Linked DNA regions of Homo sapiens: region 1 is linked to region 2. A link means that fine-mapping ties the variant in region 2 to the expression of a gene that starts in the linked region. Tissue or cell type: testis. Region 2 holds a variant in brackets; the other region holds the start of a gene. All regions are shown on one strand. Distances are from middle to middle.

Region 1 (8,105 bases), 63 kb after region 2:
GAGTCCTCCTTTCTTTGATGGTGGCCAAAATATATTTTAAGGATAGAAATGCCTAATATTCAATGTCAACACTTCTGATATCGCTCCACTGTGAACCCCTTCACCCTCCCCTTCCTCTAAATCTCTCATAAAGCTTACCATACTCATAAAGCCTTTCTGTGAACTCTTTTTCTTTTCTATTCTTTCCTAGCTCCTGTGAGACACAACTATCCAACAACTGCATCATGGATCTCTCAACCATCCATTTAGCACCTCCTTAGATTAGTCCAAAACTGAACTTATCTTCCCTTCTACACCTCTACCATCAATTGTTTTTAACTGCTCCTTCTCATATCCTCCAACATTCCACTAGCTCATTAATGTCATCATCTAAAGGAACAACTAATATTTACTGAGCACTTGGAATGTGCTAGGTACCCTGCCAAAGGCATTACATGCATAATTCCTCAAACCCTACTCAACAGGTACGACAATCATTTCCCAAATGTTAGGAAATCAAAGTTCTGTCAGGATAGTTATTCTAAGGGTAAGTAATAGAATTAGAATTTGACCCGTTTTAATTTCACAGCCAGCTTACCCAGTACATGTCAATCAATGCCTGAAGTCAAACAACCCAGGATTCATCCTTCCCTCCTTAAGCCTACCCAGTCACTTACCTAGTCCAGCCTCCTAGTCATACCTCTTAAACACCACGTCATTTCTCCTTCCACTGCCAGCACACTAGCATTTACTAAGTCCTTACTATCTGGCAATCACTATTCTAAGTAATAGACATGTTTTTTCAAGTTCTATCCCCCAAACTCTGAGATGACAAACCTAAGGAACAAAGAGGTTTCAGTGTATGACAGAGCCTGATTCCACCCCAGGTAATCTGAATAGAGAATCCCTGAGCACTTAACCCCTCCATTAGAACAGCCTCCAACTTAGTCTCCATATCGCCCATCTGGAAGCCCACCATCCTCCAGACGCTGCAGATATCTTTCTGGAATGCTTACCCGTTATCATGACATTCTCCTGCTTAAAATTAGCAGCTCAGTATCACTGACTGGATAAAGTCCAAATTTCTTAATCTGGTATAAAAAATCCTTCATTTTTCTGTTCAAGTCAATTCAGTAAATATTTTAGTGCCCAATGTAAGCAAGAAAAGGTGCCAAGTGTTCTGAAATGAATAATACATGTCCCTGACTACTACCTCCACCTCGGACACTGGGTCCTTCGGCCAGACAAGCCCATATGCAAAGCTCGTAATACAACAGCCCAAAGACACATACATTTATTTTTAAGTGGCCTGCGTGCTACGTGCCTACAATGTACGAAATCCCAAACCAATCTGAAGACTAAGTGCCTACGTAACACCTATTCTTACAGGTCTCCAGGCAGAAATGCTCCCTAAGTTCAAATTACTTCAGGGTAACTAGTGGGATAAAGGCATGGATCAGTTTCCAAATGAGAAAACTGGGCAAGAAGCAACCCCCGCCATCAATGGCTGGCATGCAGTAGGTACTTTATCAGTGGCTAAATGAATAAATAATGAAAAAATTTCAAAGTTGATGAGAGAAACAAGATATATGGAGAATGTAACACACAAGTGGGCCGAATTAAAAGTGATGTTATTCTACTTTGGTTCTCATTTGGCCTACTTTTACCCCATGGGAAAACTCACATGTGGGACTCGGACAAGCTAAAAAGCCAAAACTTTGTTATTCATGGCTCAACAAAGCTTTGACAAGCCAAAAAGGATACCAGATTCCCGCTTCCTTCTTTACCTGCCAAAGTCCATTTTCTAAAGAGGTGTGGGGGTGGGAATCAAATCTAGCAAAGTAAATAAAATTGATCTACTGAGATCCAACTTCATTAGTGCTGCATCGAAGTACATGCAAAAGAAATATCAAAACCTGTCCTGGGAAGAAGGCCAATTTACAAGTAAGTACTATTGCCGCAAGAATGTGAAATTCTTAAAGGCAGTTCCAATAAGCTGGAGCTCACAAGTGTTCCTCCTCCTGCACCGCCACCGCTTTTCACTCAACTTTGTTTCTGATTTCTGTGATTTTAAAAAGCATAATATACACAGCAAAGCCCATGCATAAGTGTACTTTAGCTCCTGGTACAAACGAACGTCTGGATTCATAAACTTAACGTAAACTGAAATACTAAAAGAAACACTACATGAGTCAAAAGTCCTTGTTTAAAACGTGGCATACAGCTTTGAAAAGCGAGTGATGTATTTCCTGAATGATGCTTTGTGTGCAACTGCTTCCAAATCAAGATTCATATTTTTAAATTACCCCCTGGAAGATGTCAAATCTCTCTCCCACCCTCTCCAGCCTAAAGAGAAAGGTGAGAATTCACAGGCAACAGGCTGGGGCGGAGGGAATGATCTCTCCCCATCCCTTTCCAGAGAACAAAACCCGATAAAGGCAGCTAGTGCCACTCTCATTGCCGACACCACACACACACAGAGGAAATTTAAACACTCACCCCACCTCTCCCTTCCCTTAAGAAGCAAACGACGCCAAGCTCTGCACCACGGTGGCCGGAACCAGCAAACGCTAACAGCCGGAGGCCGCCCGCCTCCCGGGCGCCTGCAGGCGGCGGGCACCGGGCGCCGACTCTCCCTCCTGGACCAGACCCACACCCGAGTCCACGCCAGCCCCGCAGCCCGGGCGAGCGAAGACAGCCGCGAAGGACCAAGGCTCCGGGGCGAGCTGTGGCGCCGCTCCGGCCGCCTCCCGGGGCGCGGCGCTGACCCACACCCAGCTGACGCCCGCACCTGAGGCGGCTGCCCGCAGCCAGCGAGAGGGCGCGCAGCGAGGCGGGCAGGGCAAAGTTACTCACTGGGAAAGCGCGGCTGCCCGGGCCGCGCACGGGCTCCTGGCGCCGCTGCTCGGCACCAGCTCCCGCTCTCCGCGGCCCGCTGAGGGAGCGGAGAGCCTGCCCGGCTCCGCTCCGCCAGGAATCGCCGCCGCCGCCGCCGCCGCCGCGGATTTCCTGGCAAAAAGCAAACTCCGGCCAAGACTTCACTTCTCAACCGCCCCTGCTGCCTTCCCGGGGGCAGCGCCAAGGCCGAGCGGCCCAACCCGCACCCGGGCCAATCGGAGGTAGCACAGGGCGGGAGGTGGGCGGACCAGAGGGCGGCTCCACCTATCCGAGAGCTCGGGAGGCGGGCCAGAAGGGACCCGTCACTCCCGGGTTAGAGTGAGACCACTCCGCCCTCGCCGCCCGCCTCCCCCACTCGCCCCGGGCTGTCCCCGCCGCCCGCCTGATTCCCCTGCGGAAGCCCCGCTGGCTAGGTGTCTGCGCGCACCCCCGGCCGCCGCCAAGAGTGGCACAGCTGGGGAAGGAGTGAACATCCAGAGGAATCGCGGGGCGGGGTGGGGGGAGGCCAGGAGAACAGGTGGCGCAGGGAAGCAGAAACGTAGTTGCGCTGGACAGCTGGAGTCGGGCAGGGTCGGGGCCAGCGGCGAGGGGACAAGAAGGGCCGATTCGAGAGGAAGCGCACCTGAGGGAGCACAGCGAAGGCCGGGACGCAGGGAGCTGGATGGAGAGCGAGCCTGGGCGGCGAAAGGTTGCCGAGGCGGGGGCTGGGCGCCTGGGAACAAAGGTGAGGGCGGGTTCCGCAGGTGAGGAGGTTTGAGGAGCCACTGGGGAGAAAGGGAAAAGGAAGTCTACAGCCGGAGAGGACGCGCTCTGGGGGTAGAAGGAATCCTAGGACGGAAAGGATAAGGTGGGAAACAGTTTTCTCCCAAACTCTCACTCCCCCAAAAGAGACATTTCTTTCTTGCCCTATTTTGACCCAGTTGAAAATGCAACTGCAAGCTCCCCGGTGAAACAAATACCGCCTTCAACCTTCGTATTCTGTGGTGACTCATCTCGCACGTGACCCCCCTCCCTCTTCAAGGTGTGTTGACCGACTACAGTTTAAGCCTGTCGTCCCACAAAAGGCCCGGGAGGGCCGGGGTCCCAGGAAGGGCCATCCTGGGTCAACACCGCCCCAGTTGGGAAGTCGGGCCGCTTTCGGACTTGCCACTGGGAAGGGAAGTGATTTGGGGGCGGCAGGTAAGGCCGCGCCCCTTCGCCATCACCTGGGGAAAGGTACCAGAGTTGAGCCGGGGCGCCCGCAGGCCTGTCTGGGCCTCGGGGTAAGGCGGCGCTGGCCCCGCCCCCTGCCCCTCCCGCCGCGAGTGGCCTCGCGTGGTCGCCCAGGTGAGCCGCGGGGCCGCGAGCCACCGCTCACCCCGCGTCGGGGCGGGGGCTGGGGGTGGAGCCTCATGCCCCGCCCCGCGGCTGGGCCCTGCCGCGCCGCTGCGGCTCCTCCTCCCTCCTTCCGTCCTCCGCGCCTTCCGTCGGTCGGTCCTTGCTTCCTGCTTCGCCTCCGCGCCTCGCGCTATGGGACAGAGCCCCCGATCCGCCAGCACCACCTGAGGATCCAGAAACCGCCCCAGCGATGGAAGAGGATCAGGAGCTGGAGAGGTAACGGCCGAGGAGGAGGCGGGCGGAGCGGGCCGCGCCCAAGGGGAGCGGGTGGCCGAGGGGCACGCTGCCTGGCCTGGCAGCCGGGGCCTGACTCGGGGCGCAGAGAAGAAGCATGGAGAGAGAAGTGGGGAGGAGACATGAATGTGTTTCAGTTGAGAGGCTGAGAGGTACACTAGCTATCAAGGAGGGAAGACAAGTTGGGAGACCAGAGTTAAGTATCCGAACTGCCCACCCCCGTTACAACAGCAGTGTGTAAAAATCACGCCCCGGGCCTCTGCTCCTGAGGACGGTACTCGTGCCTCTGTCCCTGTAACTACGGCTCACCTTCTTTCTATGTGCAGACTGCTCCTAAAGCCACTCTGTGCGCTGAGCTCTTTTTCTCCCTGCTGCTTGACTCCTGAACCTTCCATTCTCCTAGTTTCCTTCTCTTGCAAAATGGAAGCCGTAGTTGGGCCTGCACATTGATCATCTGTATCCTCTATTTTTATACTAGAGCAATCGGGATTTCTATGCCTTTCAACCCTCTCTTCATCCTCTAGCAGGACCAGTCCTATTCTAATCCTATCCCTTGCTTGTGACTCTACCAAAAAATATTTTTGCAAACACTTAAGTTTGTGTTTTTCTAAGAAAACTCCCCTTGTGGCCAGTGTGGATGGTCAAATGGAGCAGGGAAAAACTGGAGGCAATAAATTAAATATTTATTGATAGAGTTTGTGGAGGCAGGAAAATGAGAGGCGAATAATTCTGTGTAGCTGGAGTAGATTAATAATAATGTGTTGCAATGTGATATAGTAAATGAGAAAAAGCTAGTTACAAAACAATATTCAGTATGATCTCATTTTTATAAAAAATATGTGTGTAGAAAAATATCTGGATTGAAGACCTCAATGGCTGAAGGCGAGAGGAAGACAGCCCTGGAAATGGTCCAGGCAGCTGGAACAGATAGACACTGTGTGACATTTGTATTGCACGAGGAAGACCATACCCTAGGAAATTCTCTACGTTACATGATCATGAAGAACCCGGAAGTGGAATTTTGTGGTTACACTACGACCCATCCTTCAGAGAGCAAAATTAATTTACGCATTCAGACTCGAGGTACCCTTCCAGCTGTTGAGCCATTTCAGAGAGGCCTGAATGAGCTCATGAATGTCTGCCAACATGTGCTTGACAAGTTTGAGGCCAGCATAAAGGACTATAAGGATCAAAAAGCAAGCAGAAATGAATCCACATTCTAGTCCTTTATGCAGTATACAAGGAGAACTGTCCTGTAGGATATTCTCTTCCTGATGGTGCAGAACCCAGAATTAGAAGTTTGTGGTTACAGCATACTCTGTCCTTCAGAAAGGCGTGATTCTAGCTGTTGACCCCTTGCAGCTGTTGGAATCTCTGCAAGAACCTCTGTATTCTTCTAATAAATTCCCTCTTTTATTTAAACTAGTTTGACTGGTTTCTGTTCCATGCAACCAAATGGTCCTTGAGGATGACTTTTTTTCTAATTAAGCCAGCATTGAAAATGAGGAAACTGAGAATATCAGAGGCCTAGACAAGAACTGTGATCATGGGAATTAAAAGAAGTATATATCCATGTCTGTAGTTGGAGTGGTGGGGGTAAGGGAAGAGACAAAAACCATGACCCCAGTTAGATTGTTGTTTAAAAACAGAAGGAAAGAAGATTGGGGTGGGGACTTGGCTTCTTGCTAAACTTTTTGGCTTTTAAAGAATTGCATCATTTGCTGTGATTGGTAGACTTGGCAAGGGTGGGAATAATTTGGAAGAAGTGTGAGAATTCTGGTTTTACATGAGAGTTTTAGGGAGTAAGGCTCCATCTTTGAGGCATTTACAGGAAAGATACCAGTTTACTGCTTGAATTTTGGGATATACTTAGTCATGATCTAAGTAAGGTAAGATGTTTTGATTATATTACAGAAGGAGAAAATTGGGATGACTAGAAAACATTTTCAGTCCTTAAGTAGGTATAGCCTAGGGTAATGTAGAAGAAGCCCTATTTGAGAGAAGGTAAAGCCAAGGAGAAGGAAAATTCCATATAGGGGAAATGACTGTTTTGGAAAACACATATCCCACCCGCCAGTGCTCTGTGCTTTGGGCCCTTGTTTATCTATCCCCTCTTCCTGGGCCAGTCTTACTCCTGCCGTACTCTTAAGTCAAAGCTTATGTGTCAGGCCTCTCAGCCTAGTTTGGGTACTTCTTTGTGCTTTCATTACACCCTGTGTTTCCTGGCCTTGGCATTTACTATGCTATTGGTAGTGCTTATCTTGTTTACCCACTAAACCAACTTGGAGGTCAACATGATTCTGGTACCTGGAACACCTGACAGGTAGTGGACACTTAGTAAATACTCTATGAATTCATGTAAGTAGTTATGGCATGCAGCTTTTCAGTCACTCAAACCTGACCTCTTACACTAGCGTGCCATAGAGCCTACATTTCCTACACTCAGCCAAATTCTTTAAAGAGATATCCATATTTTTGAGCACTAGTATGTTCCAGGCCTTGGGGATAGATATATAGCTATAGTGGATGAGACAGAGTAAGTCCTGTTCTCATAAAGCATGTGTTATAAGAGCCCCTTAAAAAAAAATTGTGAGGCTCGGCATGGTGGCTCACACCTGGGAAGCCAAGGTGGGAGGATCACTTGAGCCCAGGAGTTTGAGACAAGCCTGGGCAACATGGGGAGTCCCTGTCTCTACAAAAAAATAAAAAAGGTAGCCAGGCATGGTGACACATGCCTGTAGTCCCAGCTGCTTGGGAAGCTGAGGCGAGAGGATATCTTGAACCTAGGAGGTTGAGGCTGCAATGAGCCATGATCACACCATTGCACTCCAGCCTGGGTGACAGAGGGAGACCTTGTCTCAAAAAAATATATAAAATTAAAAACTTGTAATTCTGTAAAAGCAGCAAATGTAGGGTCAAGATAGAAAACATAAGAAAGGAATCTACTTTAGGCACGGAAGTTAGGAAAGGTGTTCTAGAGATTACAGGAAGGGAGAGAGCTGGCTGTGCAAAGAGGAGAGAAAATGCATTCTGGGGGTATAGCATGTGCAAAGGTCCTAAAGCAGAAAACTGGTGGCATGAGGAACTGAAGATATTGAACAAAGATTTGCATGTTTTTGTAGCACAGTAGACAAGGAGAAGGGCCTGTCCTCTGGAGTCCATGGGAGGAAGAGTTGGGGTAGTAGGGATTTTGGATTTTAGGTTCAGTGGGAATGACGTCTTCTTTACTTTGATTACAGAGTGGGGGGAGATGAATTATAGGGAGGCTGGAGTAGAAGCAGAGAGAGACACTATAAAGAGTTGAAGTGGCCTGGAAGGGTAGAAGCTAGTGATGGAGAAGAGAAGGTAGGTTTGAGGTATATTTTAGAATTGAATTGGCACAGAATTGGTACACTTCAGGAACTGTGGAAGATGAAGAATCAAAGATGACTACTGCCTAGCTTTGGGGCCAATTACTGAAATTGGGAAGCTTAAAATGGAAAATAGATTGGGAGGTGGAAAAGATGATAGGAGTCAAAAGTTTCATTTGTGAACATTGTAAGCAGTGGCTATGTGAGTTGGAGATCGTGGAAGAGATCTAAGCTGGAGACAAATTTTATGAGTCCTTGCCATAAAGA
Region 2 (8,105 bases):
GTTTTTCAGATTATTAAAGCAAATCATTCTCATTGTAGAAAATTTAGAAAACACAATAAAAGAACAAAAAGGAAATAAAATTACCCCAATACTACAACTGGACAAATAACCTTTACTTAATAGCAGCTTGAGAAATAATTCACATACTATTCAATTCACCCATTTAAAGAACATAATTTTATGGTTTTAATATATTCACAGTTGTGCAATCATCACTACAGTAATTTTGAGAACATTTTAATCACTCCCTCTATACCCATCATTTCCCTTCCCCAACCCTAAGCAACTACTAATCTACTTTCTGTCTCTACAGATTTGCCTCTTCTGAACATTTCATGTAAATGGAATCATACATGGTCTTTTATATCTAGCTTCTTTTACTTGCATAATATTTTCAGGGTTCATCCTTGTAATTTGTGCCAGTACTTCAGTCCTTTTCATGGCCAAATCATATTTTGCTGTATGGGTAGACCACATTCCATTGATCCATTCCTCAGCTGATGGACATTTGAGTGGTTTCCACTTTCTGGCTATTGTGAATAATGCTGCTATGAACACTGGTATACAAGTTTTCGTATGAACAGCTGTTTTCATTTCTCTAGAAGTGGAATTGCTGGTCATATGGAAACTATATGAGGAATCAGTTTAACTCTTTGAGGAACTACCAAACCGTTTTCCAAAAACAGTTGTACCACTTTATATTCCCACCAGCAATTAATGAGGGTTTCCACTGCTCCACATCCTTGCCAGTGTTTGTTATTGGCTGTCTTTTTCATTATTGTCATCCTACTGGTTGTGAAGTAGTATCTTACTGTGGTTTTGATTTGTGTTTGAGACAGGATCTCACTCTGATGCTAGGCTGGAGTACAGTGGCATGATCTCAGCTCACTGTAGCCTTGACCTCTGGAGCTCAGGTGATCCTCCCACCTCAGCTCCTAACTGGGATTACTACAGATTCACACCACCACAGCTAGCTAATTTTTGTATTTTTTGTAGAGACAAGGTTGTGCCATATTGCCCAGACTGTTCTCAAACTCCTGGGCTCAAGCGATCCACCTGCCTTGGCCTCCCAAAGTGGTGAGATTACAGGCGTGAGCCACCACACCCAGCCTGAGCATCTTTTCATGGGAAAACTGGCCATTTATTTATCTTCTTTAGAGAAATGTCTATTCAGATTCTTTCCTCATCTTTATGTTGTGTTTTCTGTCTTTTTAATTAGAGTTGTAAGAATATATATTCTAGACACAAGTCATTTGTCATATATATAATTTGCAAATGTTTTTCCCATTCTGTGGGTTATTTTTTCATTTGCTTGGTTGTATTCTTTGTAGCACAAAAGTTTGCAGTTTTAAAGTCCAGTCTGTCTATATTTTCTTCTGTTGCTTTTGCTTTTAGTGTCATATCTAAGAAACTACTGCCTAATCCAAGGTCATGAGGATTTACATTTGTGTTTTCTTCTAAGAATTTCAGCTCTTATATTTAGATCTTGCATCCATTATGATTTAATTTGTGTTTATGGTGTGAGGTAGGGGTTCAACTTCATTCCTGGAAAAATAGGTTTTCAGAGTCACTTTTCTTACCTTATATACAAACTAAGTCAATGGAGACTGCTATTTTTACCATGGCAATAGTGGCTAGCTGCAACCCCCATCTATGCAAATTATATAGCATTGATAGGGAATATGAAATGGCAAATGCATTTATCCCTAAAATTAATTTTGTCTTCTGCTCCACCTCCTCTCTGAGTCCCCTTCTACACAGACACTTTATTAAAAGAAACATTTTTCAGTGAGATGGCCCTTTGGAGTATCTAAGTCTGTTGTAATGCTAGAGGATCTTTTCCCAAGATAAAATAATCTAAGAGTCTGAGTAACTGTTAGCAAATTCTGGAACTGTCATCAAGGTTCAGCAACTTTCCTTTATATAAGGCATTTTTCTAACCTCATAGAATGACTTTATGCTTCCATATGCAAGGGACAGTTTAAAGAACTTAAAAAAGTCATGTTTAATAGATACTTTGTAGATATTCTTTATTTTTTTAAATGTGCATTTAATTCAGAAATAAGATGTGGTAAAATTTTTCAAGATCCCATCTTACCTCTCTTTATTCTGCCATCTCGTGCAAGGCAGCCATGGGGTGGCACACTGGTCACAAAGATGGGCAGCTCACCACTCTTACTTCCCCTGCCCCCAGCAACGGTCATGCCAAGGGATTCATGTGGTTCCTTCTTTACAGTAATGTGTTTTTCTTGGCATGTAACACACTGAGTAAGATCCTAAAACATACAAGAAAAAAATCATTGGATAATGAATAAAATATAGTTGAAGTAAAGTTATTACTTCAAACTAAGGTAATAACTTACATGGCATTTATAAAGTAATTATTTTTTATTCCTTAATTGCAAATGAAAGTAATACACAGTTCTTAATAAGTCTGCTGTGGATCAATGTCAAATTTTGGACTATGTTATTTTCATGACTGTTTATGTAGCTGAAAAAACTCAGGACTGCTGAAATACAGCAGTCAAAGTAAAATAAGCACATCATTTGTATAATTTGTTTGAGCTTCATGTTTGATCAACTTCACAAAAGTAAATGATGCTTTTGAGTTTTAAGATTCTGAAGACAAATCAATTAATTTTACTTCCATCTTTCCCCCATTTCTTTGACAGAAAAGTTGACAGAGTAGTACAAAAGTGTAGATTTTGGCAACTGCCAGAAAAAGGTCATCGACCTATCTCCTGATTCTCACTGACTACTACTATGAGTGCTCAATCATGAAGAAGATGCAAATCTACCTTCAAAATCTTCATGAAAAGCTAAAAGGATATAAAATGACTGAATTTTTGAAAAAGTTAATGACAGGGAAATAAATTCCCAACAAATTAATATCTCCTATTTTTACTGACATTTGTTACTACTACTTATTATTGAGATGTTCCTGGAAGAAAAAGAATTTAAAACATCACTTTTCTTTTGAATTAGAATTCAGTAAAAAATAAGATGTACATATGCAATATTAATATTAAAATAATAATTAACATTTGGGCTTAGCCTGTGAAAAGCTAATGCCTTTACATGCATTATTTCATTTAACCTTC[A/G]CAAAAGTCCTGAAATTATATATTATTATTGACCCCATTTTACAGATGATGAAACAAACTTAGGGAGGTCATGTAACTTGTCCTGAATCATGTTAATATAGGCAACTGTCCTGGGATTCAAAATTTACGTATGTTAAAAGAATGTACTATATATTAATACAAATAGTATTTTGTATATGTTTATATAGTGTGATAGACTACATGTACATATTGTATATATGCACCTACACAAGAACTATCCCATTAAGTGTACAGTGTAAGATAATGTCTCAGAAGGTTTTAACACTTATTAACTGTTAAGAGAATGTTGTAGATAATTAAAATTGTTAATAATATAAAAAATACAAATTACATTCACAGAATTATAACATTTCCTTAAATCACATTAGAGAATTGACATGTATTTAACTGTTAATAATGGCATTTATCAAATCTCTAAATCAGGGCCTGGAATTCTAGGCCTATCTACCCTTCTCCAGATGTGAAATCTATACTCTTGAAATTTTACCAAAGGAGCTATGTGTAATAGCAGCATAGTATTCCCAGAAAATGTTATGACCAAGGAGAAAATCTGTAAATGTTTTAAGGCAATCTCCTATCTAAAGGTATGAAATTTTTGTCAGCAGCCTTCAAAATTAGACAAACACAACTTTATTCTGAAGACAACTCAGGTAAACTCAACCTTGAGTATATTCATTTAAGCAGGTTCAGCCCTTACATATTTAAGCAAAGTGTGGGTATTTTATTACTCTAGGTGTCTAAAATGTATGCAATTTTTACCCAGGAACCCAACCAAACTTCAAAGATTATACTCAGTTTGCTTCAAGGAACTTCCTAAAACAAACATGAATGTTTATCAGAACAGCTACTGGGAAGCTTTATAGAAGACTAATATATACTTTAATTTTTTCAGAATGATTATAATTGTCTGAAAAGATTGTTTTGGTGAATGTGTATGTGTTTTCCCTAGGAGACCTTTACTTTTCTGTATCAGGATTTGACAAAACAAATGGAGCATCTTAGTAGTAAATAGCTAAATGAACACATTCCATTTCAAGTGGTTTTTCTAACCAGCCAGGTTTGCAGAGTGCCTGGAATAGAATAAATTCAGCATCACTATTTAGAACATTGTCATATAAAATTAAAGAGAATGAGAATTAGCATAGTTATGACAGAAAAATACATGTGCCCACAACAAATTGAATTAAGGAGAGTTTGCTATAGGAATACTGGAATTATTAATTACAGTTTTTCAAACTCTCTTAAAACTATAATGTTGTTATATACACCCCTATCTCAAATTATAAAATTCAATAACATAAAAGATTCAATTATCAACTTGTACCTTATATTATAGTTTTATATGTATAAAAAACTTGTAAAGCAAGGACTAGCTATATGAAACAACACCTATTCAAAAAGTCCTGTTTAAAACAATTACCCCTTTTCCACAGTCATTATTTAAAGGCAAATTATAGGTTTCCTTCATACATTTTGGTTTTGCTCAGAAATGAGAATGAAGTCTGTGATTATAATTTCTTTTTAGTATTAACTAAATCAAAGACCAATGACAAGTCTGTAGAGAACTTAAGCTCAGAAAACCATATAAACCCAATGGGCCAAAAATACTGTGTCTTTAAGCTATGCTTTCTTAGGGTACCAGAGACAGACTCCAAAGCTAATTATTCACTCAAATGTTACTTTCAGGTGACAATAAATAAGTTTTTGCTTAGTAAAGCAATTTAATTTTACTTAAGGAGAATTACTCTGGTAGGTCACATTTAGCTTTTATTTTTGCATAATTGGGTAAGCATAACATCATTGTTTTAAAACTTCTGGCCCACTGGAAGTTAAGAGTTCAAATGAAGGATGAAATGAAGTAAATAATATCAAGAATGCTAAAGTATCATCCTTTCAGATTTTTGGACTGAAAGTGAGGTAGCATCAAAATTCTCAGCTCAGGTAGAATACATTATAAAACCAGTGAAATACTGATTCTGAAGAAACAGTAACAAAGCTTAACATATGGAAATTTTAAATGATTTAGGGTAATATTCCTCTAAGCTTTAACATAAAAAGAAATATGCTATATATGTACCTATCAAATACGTAAATATGCTATATATGTACCTATCAAAATTCATGATTCATATGTTTAATCTTCATGTATCTAATTCAGGTTCTGTAGGCAACAGGCTCAATTATTAAGCATAGATTTGTCAATCTTGTCTTATGTTTTTTCATCAACTAACTCTTATATTTAAATAAGCAACCCAAGATAAATTCCACTTTCAAGTAGGATTAAACAGATAGAAGATTTCACGCTTCTTGTTAATCGCCTGGCAAAGGAAACTTCCCCTCCAAGAAACTATCTCCAGATCTAAGGAACAAAGCAGTCACTTTCCAAGGTAGCAAAACATATACATTTCATATTCCAAACACCTATATTTTTCAACAGAATAACAACCCTCATTTGAATCTTTTTTTTAAAAAAACTGCTTTATTGAGGTGTGACTGACACACAAAAAAACCTTCATTTAAATCTTACCAGCTTGTAACAATGATCCTTTGATGGTGGCATAAAAAAAAAAAAAAATCCTCACCTTATGTGAGCTTGGTCTGCTATAATACGGTGGTGGTGTGTGGTGCTGGCTGCTGCTGCTATGATTTCCTGCTTCTCTAATGGTGTTACCAGGCTGGGGTTTCCCTGGTCTAGCAATTGTTAAATTCACTCTCTCTCCACTGGCCTGGAGAAAACACAAATACATTACCATAAGTGACTAATGATGTTTGTCATTTTAAAGATTACACACAGTGTAATTTTCAATGAACTTCTTAATCACTGTACCAGGGCGTCATCTGGACAGTGACTGCAAGCACCTGGTGGCAAGAGGAATGAGTTCATTTCATTAGCTAATATCTTAAAACTTCAGCAGTTGAAGCACATACACACAAAAATCTTGGGCATGCCGTCTGCAACCCCACCTCCAAAATGACCAAGGCAAAGTGGTCACACTGCCTGGGCTCTTATTGCCCCATGATTGGTAACTTTTCTTGTAATACTTCTTTGCATCTTCAAGGTTGGCCTTAATATTGCAAGACAGAGCAAAGGAAATAAAAGGAAGAACTGCTTCAAAACTTGATTAAAGTCCATTGTGACTTTTGAAATAAATTTCCATGGTGGCTACTTCAGAAATCATAATGAAATTCTGCACAGCTTTGTTTCTGCTGCTATAGGTCTGAGTCAAAAGTAGGATATCGGCTTCAACATTCTTGAAAAGAATGACTACAGAAATCCTGCATAACAAGACTTTATATGTATGTGTGTATATATATATATATATATAGCATACTTGTGTGAATGTGACACACGTCTCCAGTGTTAAATTATTTTAGAGGTTCATGACTGTCGTTTTAAATTTAGAGGCTTGTTAGCTATCATATTTTGAACATATGTTTACATTGGTTACATTTTTACAAGTTATTTAATACTTCCTTTTAAATTATAAGTCTAATTTATTTGATGCTGACTCTTGGTCATGACCACAATGCCCAATTTTACTGTAATTCCTATGGGAAAATATGATAGCCTGCTTTAAAGAAATTGTGGTACAAAGTGGAGACCTCTCCCATGATTATAGTCAATAATGTTAAGAAATCACTTTATTTTCAAATCTTACATTAGAAAAGAAGTAAGAAACAAGTTTAATGCCTTACTAAAATCATTTACTATTGGTCTCCTTTTAAGACATGGAGTATATGTTATTTTTTAAAATCCAAAAACAATAACGCTTTTACTTATTTTCAAAAAGAAACAGAGCAACTTTAGTTTTCCATTATTTGGAGAAAATTATAGCACAAAATACGTTGAAACTATTTATAACATCCAAATATAAAATATGATCACGGACAATTTAAAATACATTTTCTATCTGTGTATCTGTATTTTTCACATTTTGGTTAGAAATTTAGTTAGAATCATCCAATTGAATGAACTAGATTAGATAATTTAAACATTGCCTGAAATACATATAGTCCATCTATTATTTTCTATCTTATTGATCTGGCCTCTCACTTGACTCTTTTACTCAAACAGATGCTATAACTCTATTAGCTTTCTTCTTCCTCCTCCTCTTTTCTCCCCTCCCTCCCACTAATCTCCACTCTTACAAGATGAGCTGGGTTTTAGTGGTGCAGCTGCTGGCTAATACCCACAGATATAGGTCCTAATGTTGCCTTTGATTTGAGGAAATTTTAAGGCATCCAATTTCTTTAAACCTCAAGTCTATGAAATTAGACCAATATCAGAATCTCCTCTCAATACAATAAAGAGAGTTGAGACTTGAATTTTCTTATAGTCTTAAATTTTCATTGTTATTTGATTCTGTGTTGTAAACACATTCTTCAATGACTATCGGCCTACCCTACTTCCTGATCCTCAATTACATAATTCTTGGTTTCCTTTACAGTGTTTTGTTTTGCTAACTTTAAGAAAAACATCTTTTTGTTGCACCCTTATCACTGTAGAAGTTGCTCATATCATTAAATGCTATGGCATGTTGCAGAATGTATAGATCTCCTCTGGATGACTTTCCAACTTATCCATCTTCATGCTTTTATGAAAAACATGTTCTTTCTCTAATAATGACTATCCTTACTTATGTCACAAAGATGCTATGAGGACAAATTTTATCATGTATTTTAAACACTGTGAATTCCTTAGAAACAACAACAAAGCACTATAGAGATAAGAGTTATTCTTCCTCTATTTATATAGATCCTGACAGGGAGTTAAGAGACCAGGTAAGTCAGATCCTTGGTAATCACAGCTCTTTTGAGCCTCCCTTTCCTCACTTCTAAAAGGTGGACATATCATCTGCTACATCTGGCTTAATAGTAGAACCCAGGACCCAAATGAGAAATGAATGTGAAACAGTAGAGCCTACGCTCTGTAAATAACCATCCCCAAAATTCACAGGGATATAGTTTTTAGAAAAGACTATC

The links. PIP is the estimated chance that this variant, and not a neighbour inherited with it, causes the effect.
Region 1: it holds the start of POLR1D, and the variant in region 2 is fine-mapped to the expression of POLR1D in testis (GTEx, PIP 0.97).

What each region holds. Positions count from the first base shown.
Region 1 is chr13:27,617,540-27,625,644 of GRCh38, forward strand. It overlaps POLR1D (RNA polymerase I and III subunit D), which reads left to right and starts at 4,353. Exons shown (of 2, transcript NM_015972.4): 1 at 4,353-4,470; 2 at 5,336-5,910. The coding sequence starts at 4,445. The coding sequence ends at 5,711. LNX2 (ligand of numb-protein X 2) reads right to left here and starts at 2,990. Exons shown (of 10, transcript NM_153371.4): 1 at 2,836-2,990. RefSeq lists silencers at 2,540-3,429, 4,050-4,609 and an enhancer at 3,018-3,746.
Region 2 is chr13:27,554,138-27,562,242 of GRCh38, forward strand. LNX2 (ligand of numb-protein X 2) reads right to left here. Exons shown (of 10, transcript NM_153371.4): 6 at 5,705-5,848; 7 at 2,099-2,276. Among named protein-coding and RNA genes, the nearest start is that of LNX2, 62 kb to the right of the region's middle. The variant A/G (reference allele first, on the strand shown) is at 3,102.